Linked DNA regions of Homo sapiens: region 1 is linked to region 2. The links come from fine-mapping of genetic effects on gene expression. A gene starts in region 2. The other region holds a variant in brackets. All regions are shown on one strand. Distances are from middle to middle.

Evidence for each region. PIP is the estimated chance that this variant, and not a neighbour inherited with it, causes the effect.
Region 1: its variant is the best candidate, but not a certain one, in a credible set for the expression of LINC02128 in iPS cells (PhLiPS, PIP 0.51).

Annotation. Positions count from the first base shown.
Region 1 is chr16:50,885,617-50,890,009 of GRCh38, forward strand. All of the region lies in intron 1 of LINC02128 (long intergenic non-protein coding RNA 2128), which reads left to right. Among named protein-coding and RNA genes, the nearest start is that of LINC02128, 48 kb to the left of the region's middle. The variant GT/G (reference allele first, on the strand shown) is at 2,414.
Region 2 is chr16:50,837,997-50,842,389 of GRCh38, forward strand. LINC02128 (long intergenic non-protein coding RNA 2128) reads left to right here and starts at 2,060. Exons shown (of 3, transcript NR_184286.1): 1 at 2,060-2,405.

The DNA of each region.
Region 1 (4,393 bases), 48 kb after region 2:
CACCCCAACTTCTTTCCTGCTATATTCCTCCTCACCTACTGCATTCCAGCCCTACTGGCCTCCTGACCTATGAGTTTATCTGGGAGAAGAATGTTCTAGGCAGAGGGAATATTCAGTGCAAATATCCTGGGGTGGAAATGTGCCTGTCTTGGTCCAAGAACAGTAAAGAAGCCAGTGTGGCCTTAGCAGGGTGAGTGAAGGGTAGAGAAGTCGGAGATGAAATTAGAGGCAGCAGGGCCCAGAATGAGGGACCTGCGAGGTTGTTAAAGGGACTGACATTTTAAATTCAAATTGATGGCTTATTTTGAAATGTCAGGAGATTTTGCAAAACTGAGCCTGCATTTCTGCATAGCAACCATTGGTGAGGCTTGTTCCCTGTGGCAGGGCTGTCTCCTCTTCAATTTGCCACAAGCCCCACCCATCCCTATTGCCTCATGCATCCACCTGCTTTGCTCGTGTACATTGCCTGTCTGCCCCATAGGGATATGAGGTTACAAAGTCTCCCCACAGGGGAAAGGGTGAGGGGAAAGATAGTGAATATGGGTGTGGAGGGAGAAGGCAGTTTTCCCCCTTCCCTCCTCTGGGGAGCACAAGGCCAGGCTTTTCTGGGAAGGGACTCTGGGAGGCTGTGGGTGAGGTCTCCTCTCTGACACTGCTCTGCATGCTCCACTCCCAGGTCACCTGCTGAGAAGGCATCTCTGCAGGGGAGGCCGAGGCAAGGGCACCCATGGGGACGCCTCGAGGAAATAGTGAAAATGTTTTCCCAGGGAAAGCCAACACTGCCATTTGTTTTAGTTGCTTAAATTATATGTGTTATTTATTTTTTAAGTGGTCTGTCATTATTGGTGAATGGGGAAGCCACCCAGCCTCACAATGCAACCAAAATTTTAGATATTGCTATGTAGTTATTAACGAATGAGCTTTTCATCTTTGGAAAATGTGCTGTGCATGAAGCCCAGGGGGCTGGGTTTCTTGTTATTGGGTAATTATAGCCCATGAGGAGGGGGTGGCCTGGGTCTTCAGCAGCAGGCGGGGTGGGACTTTTCAGGCTCTCTGCATGGTGGCTCAGCCATCCATTCGTATATTTATTCAAACATGCATATTGGGCGCCTACTGTGTATGAGGTGCTGCTCCAGATACTGAGAGCAATGATATTAATATAAAGAATAAAGCCACCACTTTCATCATGCTTACTGTGTGCCAGGCACTGTTCTGAGTGCTGTACCTATATTAACTCATTTCATTATCCAAACAACCCAGCAGGTAGCATTTTCCCCATTTTACAGATGTGGAAACTGAGGCACAGAGAGACAGGAACAAGAGACACTGGCTTCATGTATGCATAAGAAATTTCCATGCAATGGAGAAAAATCCAGCAGAATTATATGACAGAGAGGGCCTGGAAGGGGCCACCTGTAGATAGGGTGGTCAGGGAAGGCCTCCCTGGGGGAGGTGGTGGGGAGAAGGAGACAACTATGGAGAGATGTTAGTGCTACCCGTGGCGAATCCCTATGGGTCTGCAGAACCTCAATTCTTGCCTCATCAGAAGAAACAATCCCACTGAGTAGGCATAAGACAGAAGGAGAGACCGAGGAAAGTCTTTAGAGCAGGAATGAACGTTTATTAAAAAGTTTTAGAGTGGGAACAGAATGAAGGCAAGCATATTTGGAAGAGGGCCAAGTGGGCAACTTGAAAGACAAGTGCCCTGTTTGACCTTTGAATTGGGGTCTTATATGTGGGCATACTTCTGGGGTCCGGCTTCTCTTCTCCCCTGATTCTTCCATTGGGGTGGGCTGTCTGCATGCACAGCAGCCTGCCAGCGCTTGGGAGGGGACCATGCACAGTATATTTACTGAAGTTGTACGTGTGCTTACTTGAGGCGTTCTTCCCTTACCAGTCAAATGTCCCTGGAAGGTCATATACCAAGTAAATGCTGCCATTTTGCCTCTTAGCGCGCATGCTTGAGTCCACTTGCCCAACTCTGGGATCTTATCAGGAAGCTGCTGATCACCAGTTTCAGATGTTTTCAGCTATTGGGAGACTGCTTTTCTCTGGCGCTGGCTGCGACCAGTTATTACTTCAGAGAAACAGAAAGAAGGAAGCTGGGGCCGAGGGAATGTGGTTTTGCTGTAAAAATCTGACTGCACTCAGAGCCTGGGACTTTCTAACCGGCATGTGATGGTCCTGGGTGGGGGGCCTTGGCTGCTAAGCTGGAGGCTGGGGTCAGGGCATGGCTGGGAATAGCGGTCTCTCAGGGTGCAGAGAGGACACTCAGGCACTTGAGTTGACCCTCACTTGTGGGTGGCTGGACAAGGAGGTGCTGAGGCCTCAGGCGGGGTTTCTCAAGGCAGAATTAAGGGCCACCTCCCCCATCCCCTACTCCCACCCTCTCCACTTAGGAATTCCCTGTGGT[GT/G]TTTTTTTTTTTTTTTTTTTTAACATATGCAGATTTATGGGCTTCACCAGATCCTTCTAATGCTAAATATTAATGGCATTTGCAGTCTGGAGCAGAGGAGCTGGGTGGGGGCACTGGGAGCTGAACACATCCCTGGACACGGCTGTCTCACTGGAGGGGGTTGAGTTCTGCAGAGAGAACCCTAAATGCAGAACCAGGACCGAGGGGCACACGTTCTAGGAAGAAATTTTAATTCAAGTTACTCAAGGATTTTGTAAAGGCTGGAGCTGTCCAAAAGCTGGAAGACGTGGACTCTAGGGTCAGGCAGACCAGATTGAGTCTTTGCTTGACCACTCTTGGTTGTCAGACCAAGGGACTTAACTTCCTGTTGCCTGAGCTTTCTCAGCAATAGAATGGGGACAAACACAGCAGCCACTCATAAGAGTGAAATGAGTTAACACATGGACAGTGCCTAGAACACTGCACACAGTAAGTGCTCAATAAATGTCAGCTGTAGTCATCCGCACATTCTTATTACTGGCAATAGAAGGACTTGCCTTTACAGGCAGATCAACCTCTTGTGAGGACGGAAGCAGACTCTAATGCCCCTTGTTGCTGATTCAAGGGGCCTCTGGAAGACCCTTCCACCCTAAAGTGATGTTTCCAACTGTCCTCTATTGCCACGGGCTAAAATGGCAATGGCTTTTGCTTCCCTGCTCTGGGGTCTCTCTGGGAAGCTCTAGAAAACTGGGAGAATAAACAGATCCAGCCTGGCCACAAGGGACTCTCTCACCATCAGATGCCATTAACCAACGGAGTGTCCTTCCCCATCACTTGGGAATCACAAAGTCACCAGAATTCTTACGCCTTTGAGAAAGGGTGTGCCATGCCGGTCGGTAGTGTGACTTGTACTGGATCAAAGTCTCTCTCTGGAGGAAGCTGGGCCCAGGGACTGCTCACTGCCAGAGAACATTTCAGCCTTCCCTCTGAGACTGGGTTCTTTCTGCTGAGAGCCTGTGGAGGCTGAGATGGCCAGGTGGGGAGTGATGATTGATGATGGTGATGATGATGATGATGATGATGATGATGATGATGATGGTGACGGTAAAGATGAAAAAGAAGAGAAAATCATAAAGATGGCAACCATTACTATTGTTCTTTCTCACTCCGCTGAGCACTCACAATGTATCAGACACAGCATTCAGGGTGCTTCCCCATTCATTATCCCAGCTAATCCTTGCAGCAACCTTTATGAGGTGCGTGCTGTCGTCTCTACTTTATTTAAGAGAGAAAATGAGGCTGGTGGAGTTGAAGCTCCATGTTCAAGGCTCCAGGCAAGCAGGAGCTGGAGCCGGATTAGAGCCCAGTTCTGGGCATCCACGCCTTTAACCGCTAAGCCATGCTGTCTCAATGTAGCCACCCCAGCAGCCTTGGCCCAGTGGGCCGGTAAGGCTGGCTTGTTGAGAAAGGGACACTGGTATAGGGCATACCCTTGGTGTCAATGGGGTGAGTTTGAGAGATGGGACCGTTGAGGACTGAGGAATGTGAAAGGCAAGACTTTTTAGCAGAAGCTGCCTCTAAGGAGAGGCCTCCTTCATCACCCTGCTCAGACTGCACTCCACCCTTGGCATTCCACACTCCCTTGGTACTGCAAGACAAGGCAATGATAACCACTCGATTTCAACTGAAATCACTTGTTTTTTCCCCCTTCCCAACTGGGCTCTCCCCTGAGACCCAGGTGTTAATGAAATCAAACAAATGAAAATGGGTAAATTATTGCAAAGCTATGAACACCTCCACAGGGCCACGCCTCACTAGTTTCCAATACCACCTCATTCTGGAGGCTGCCGGAGGAGCTGAAGCAATTTTGTCCCATGGGTGAGGTGGTGGAAGGAAGGGACAAAAGAGACAAGATATTGCAATCAGAAGGTCGCTGACCCAGGCTTTTGTATAATTATAGAATTTCATTTCGGGCCAACTGGATGGACGACTGAGCTTGT
Region 2 (4,393 bases):
GCATGAGCCACTGTGCCCCACTGAGGTTTGGATTTTTAAACAAAAACTAGGATTCTAAATTTATATGTCTACTGTTTTAATGTTTTAGTACTGGCACTGAATTTAAAAAAGCATTCTTAATAAAATAAAATGTCTGCTGGCAATGATGAGTTATGGTGATGACAATGGTGATTAATGATAGCTAACATTAGTGAGCGCTCATCATGTATCAGGGTCAGTTTTGGACTGGTTTCATCCTTACAACAATGCTAAAAGACATGTCCTGGTGTTGTCCCTGTTTCACAGGTGAGGAAATGGAAGCACAGTGAGTAACTTGCCCAAGATCACTGTCTTTGCTGCTCAGTTGATTGGGTAATTGACTTCCAGGAAATTAGAGATCTACTGACAAGGTACCCTGGGCCTGCGTGGAAAATATGACATCAAGATAGATTTCCTGGCAAAGGCCAACTTATTACAACATTCCACTTAGAAAAAAAATCTATGCACTTAAAAAAAACCACAGCCAGGCACAGTGGCTCATGCCTATAATCCTAGCAGTTTGGGAGGCTGAGGCAGGAGGATTGCATTAGATCAAGAGTTTGAGACCAGCCTGGGTAACACAGCAAGACTGTCTGTACAAAAAATATTTAAAAAACCAGCCATGCCTGGTGGTGCACACCTGTAGTTCTAGCTACTTGGGAGGCTGAGGTGGGAGGATAGTTGGAGCCCAGGAGTTCGAGGCTTCAGTGAGCTATGACTGCACCATTGCACTCCAGCCTGGGTGACAGAGCGAGACCCTGTCTCAAAAAACAAAAACAAAAAAACCAACACACTTGTTTTCTGGAAGATTTTACCTATATACTACCACTGTCCTTCAGAACCATGGGTTTTCCTTAAGTAGCAGGGAATAACCATGTTGATTACTAAGTCGCAGGCCAGAAGGAAAGAACTTGACTTGGGATTTCCTGAATTTATTACAGCGTACTTTATTTCATAGGCTAAAACTGTGTCTTAGGTTCAATGAACTATGTGAAAACTCTGGCTGGTCCACTCCCCATAACTCAGCCCTTTGGCCTCCTGACTGGACATTTCCCTGAAATATATTAGGTCCAGCTGGGCATGGTGGCTCATGCCTGTAATCCCAGCACTTTAGAAGGCCAAAGCCAGAGGATCACCTGAGTCCAGGAGTTTGAAAACAGTTTGTGCAACATAGTGATACCCTGTCTCTAAAAAGAAAAAAAAATTAGGTCCTTCATAAACATTTGTGGGATGAATGTTTTAATTACAAATTTTAATATAGGGTGTTTTTAACAGGATTTCTTTCTTTCTTTTTTTTCTTTGTTAAACAGTCACTGTGTTTATTTCCTGCCATTATCTCTGGATGTCATTTTTTGCACAGACTGTCACAGACCAACATGATGTGTGCATACATTTACGTGTGGTTCGATATACACATATGCGCCTGCAATGCTTCTGTGTGAGTCAACATACATGTATGCACACACTTACATGTAGCTCAATACACATGTACATGTGCAATGCACACACCAACATGTGGTTTAATATACACGTGTGCATACACTCACATGTGGATCAACACACATGTGCACTCACATGCAACTTAACACACACAAGCACACTTACCTGTGGTAGAACACACACATGTAAATCCTTGCATATGGCTTAACACACGTGGGCAATGTGCACATTTACACATAGTCCAGCCTATACATGTGCACATGCTTACATGTGATTTGATATGTATGGGTGTATATACTTCATTTGGTTCAGATATACCTGCAGGGTGGGGATTTTATTGTATCCCTGAGTGATTCCTGTCCCAGGCTTAGCAGTGATGAAATGAGTTTCTCTCACCCTAGCACCAGGGAGAAGGATAGGGAGGTATTTCTCTTCCTCACTTGAGCCAGGATCTGCGGCTGTCCCAGTGAATGTTTGACATTGGCCGATACTCAGCATTACCAGGAGGTGGTGGACGATGTTCACTGGTTGGCATCACCATTCCGGGGGAGAACCCTTCGACTGTGCACCGTTCTATGCATAGAGTTCGTCATGGAAGTCCAGTTCCAACATTGCTGATGGGCCAATGAAGGGAGGTGGGGTTTTCTGGGCTGCGAGGTTTTCTGGGCTGCAATGTGGAGGTCAGCCACACAGTGAGCCAGCATCCCGTGTGTACAGCATGTGTACATGCATACAACGCAGTGGATGCTGACGAGGGTGTGCAGGCCAGTGTAGGATGGCTCTGGGATGGAAGGAGCATCTCTCATGCACCTGTGCAGGTGCAACGTGTCCTCTGCTGGCTTGACGTGGACGCTCCCCAGTACCAGAGAATGGCAGCAGCTTTGTGCCCCTGCAAGCCCTGATTCGAGAGGAGGCTGGAGGCGTGCTGTCTCCGGCTGAGGATGGAGGTATCTCCCTAGGGGAAGCAGGGAGTGGTCAGCACCTTGGGGAATGGGAGCTATTAACCTTTCAACCTGGCTTGCATTTCTTTCCAGGATGTCCTGTCTTCTTGTAAAGGAAGTGGCAGATCTTCAGGCAGGGGGCAGCAGATTCTGTTAGACTAAGACTGTGGCAGTAGGCAGGGTGGGAGCAGGAGGTCCTGTCCCTCAAACCCACTACAGATGCAAGGGTAGAAAGATCAAAGGGGGTGCAGTTGAGGAGAGGGGAATGGTCACCCCAGAAGATAACTGAGTAAAATAATAATAATTGTTGATAATGTCATCCCAGCCCTTACTATATACCCATTTCTGTGATAGGTGCTTTTCATAGATAATTTCTAAGCCTGCCAATGACTCTTTGAGTTGATATCTTTAATATCTGGGCACATTTCTCCATTAATGTAACCAAGAAATTAAATCAATCTATGCGAAGGTCCATGGCATGTATGTGCGGACTCTGTTTTGGAAGCCAGGGCTATATGACTCCACAGCCCTTTTCTGTCCCCAGAAGACCACCACCTCCAGTCCCCCGCGTCATTTCAGGACCTGCCACTCTGGTGTCCTGGTTCTTAAGGCTGGTGGAAAAGTAAGCTGGGTTCAGGGACCAGCCTGTCTTGCTCAGGACCTCCAAGGAGGCCAGAGCTGTTTCTCCCGTTTGGAGAGGGAGATCCTAGCCTTTCTCAATACTTTTTGATTTCTGGGAAAGGAGAAGTTGGAAGGCCGCCTCGCCTCCTGTCTCGGTGGCGTTCAAGGTTATCCAGACAGCGGTCTGCGGGTTTCATTTGCAAGTCACTGCGCGGCGCATGCAGAAGCAGCCGCGGGCCGGCGGGGCGCGCAGATAAGGTCTGGGGGCGTGGGTTTCGGGCTGTACCTGCATTATCGCGGCTTCCTTAAGCTCGGATGAATATGTAAATCTCTCGCTGCAGCCTTCCGGTGCCGCAGTCGCAGCCGTGGGGGCCGCCTCCGCTGTAGCAATTCCGAGGGTAAAATTGATTAATATTTGTTTTCAAAATGACACGCGGTGATGTATGGGCCCTGTTACAACTTAAATTAATACTTTAAAGAGATGAATGGTCTCTACCGAGGGTGTTAAAGTTCAAGCCCAGGGAATTTGCATATTTATATTACAGCCAACTGATAGTAATTGTGGGAACGGCCTGTAATGCTGTTCGTTTGTCATTTTCAGCGGGGTGTGCTTCTGCCGGGGACCTCATTAACTCAGAAGGCCTCAGCCCCTCAGCCCTGCAGGACACGGGCTGGCGGCCCGGCGCCCAGGGCTTGTGGTCAGGGCACCGTCCTGCCTTGTGGGCTTCTGGAGGCTGAGTGCCTTCAGGCCTGGCCACCTGGCTTGGGAGGTGAAGACAGGTGCCCCGAGCCTGCCGACCTCACCTCCTGCTCGGCTGTAAATCCCTTCCTAATGTAGCCAGAATCCCTTCTTACTATGTGTGATGCCAACCACCATCTGAGCCACCTTCGAGTCACTTATGGCCATACTTCCCTCTTAGCTAAAGTTCTCCCAGAAGTACATCTTCAGACAAGTTTCCCCCAAGTGCTTTCTCCCGGAGGTGGTCCCAGGAAGCAGTGGTAGAGGAGAGAAGGACCGCACACGGGGTACGTCACCAAGCAGGTGACAGCTGTGGGCAACTGGGGTGCAGTCCTGCTAGGGATCCTGGGGCGGCACTGTGGGGCACACTTTGGGATTGTCCCACCTGGAGGTGGGGAAGCTGCGGTCTTCTCTTCAACTCCATTTGTCATTGGCTGAGGGCTGTTCCCTGGGGGTGTTAATTCCCAGCACCTCCTGCTGCCTGAGAACCTGCTGCAAAAGCCCGGGGGTGGAGAGTCCCGGATGCTGCTACCGGGCCGATGGCCTGTGCGGGATGACGGGTGGTGGGGAAGGCCAGCATCTCCTAGCGGGCCTCTCGGTGTCCGCCATCCCCACTTGTCCTCCACTCAATAGC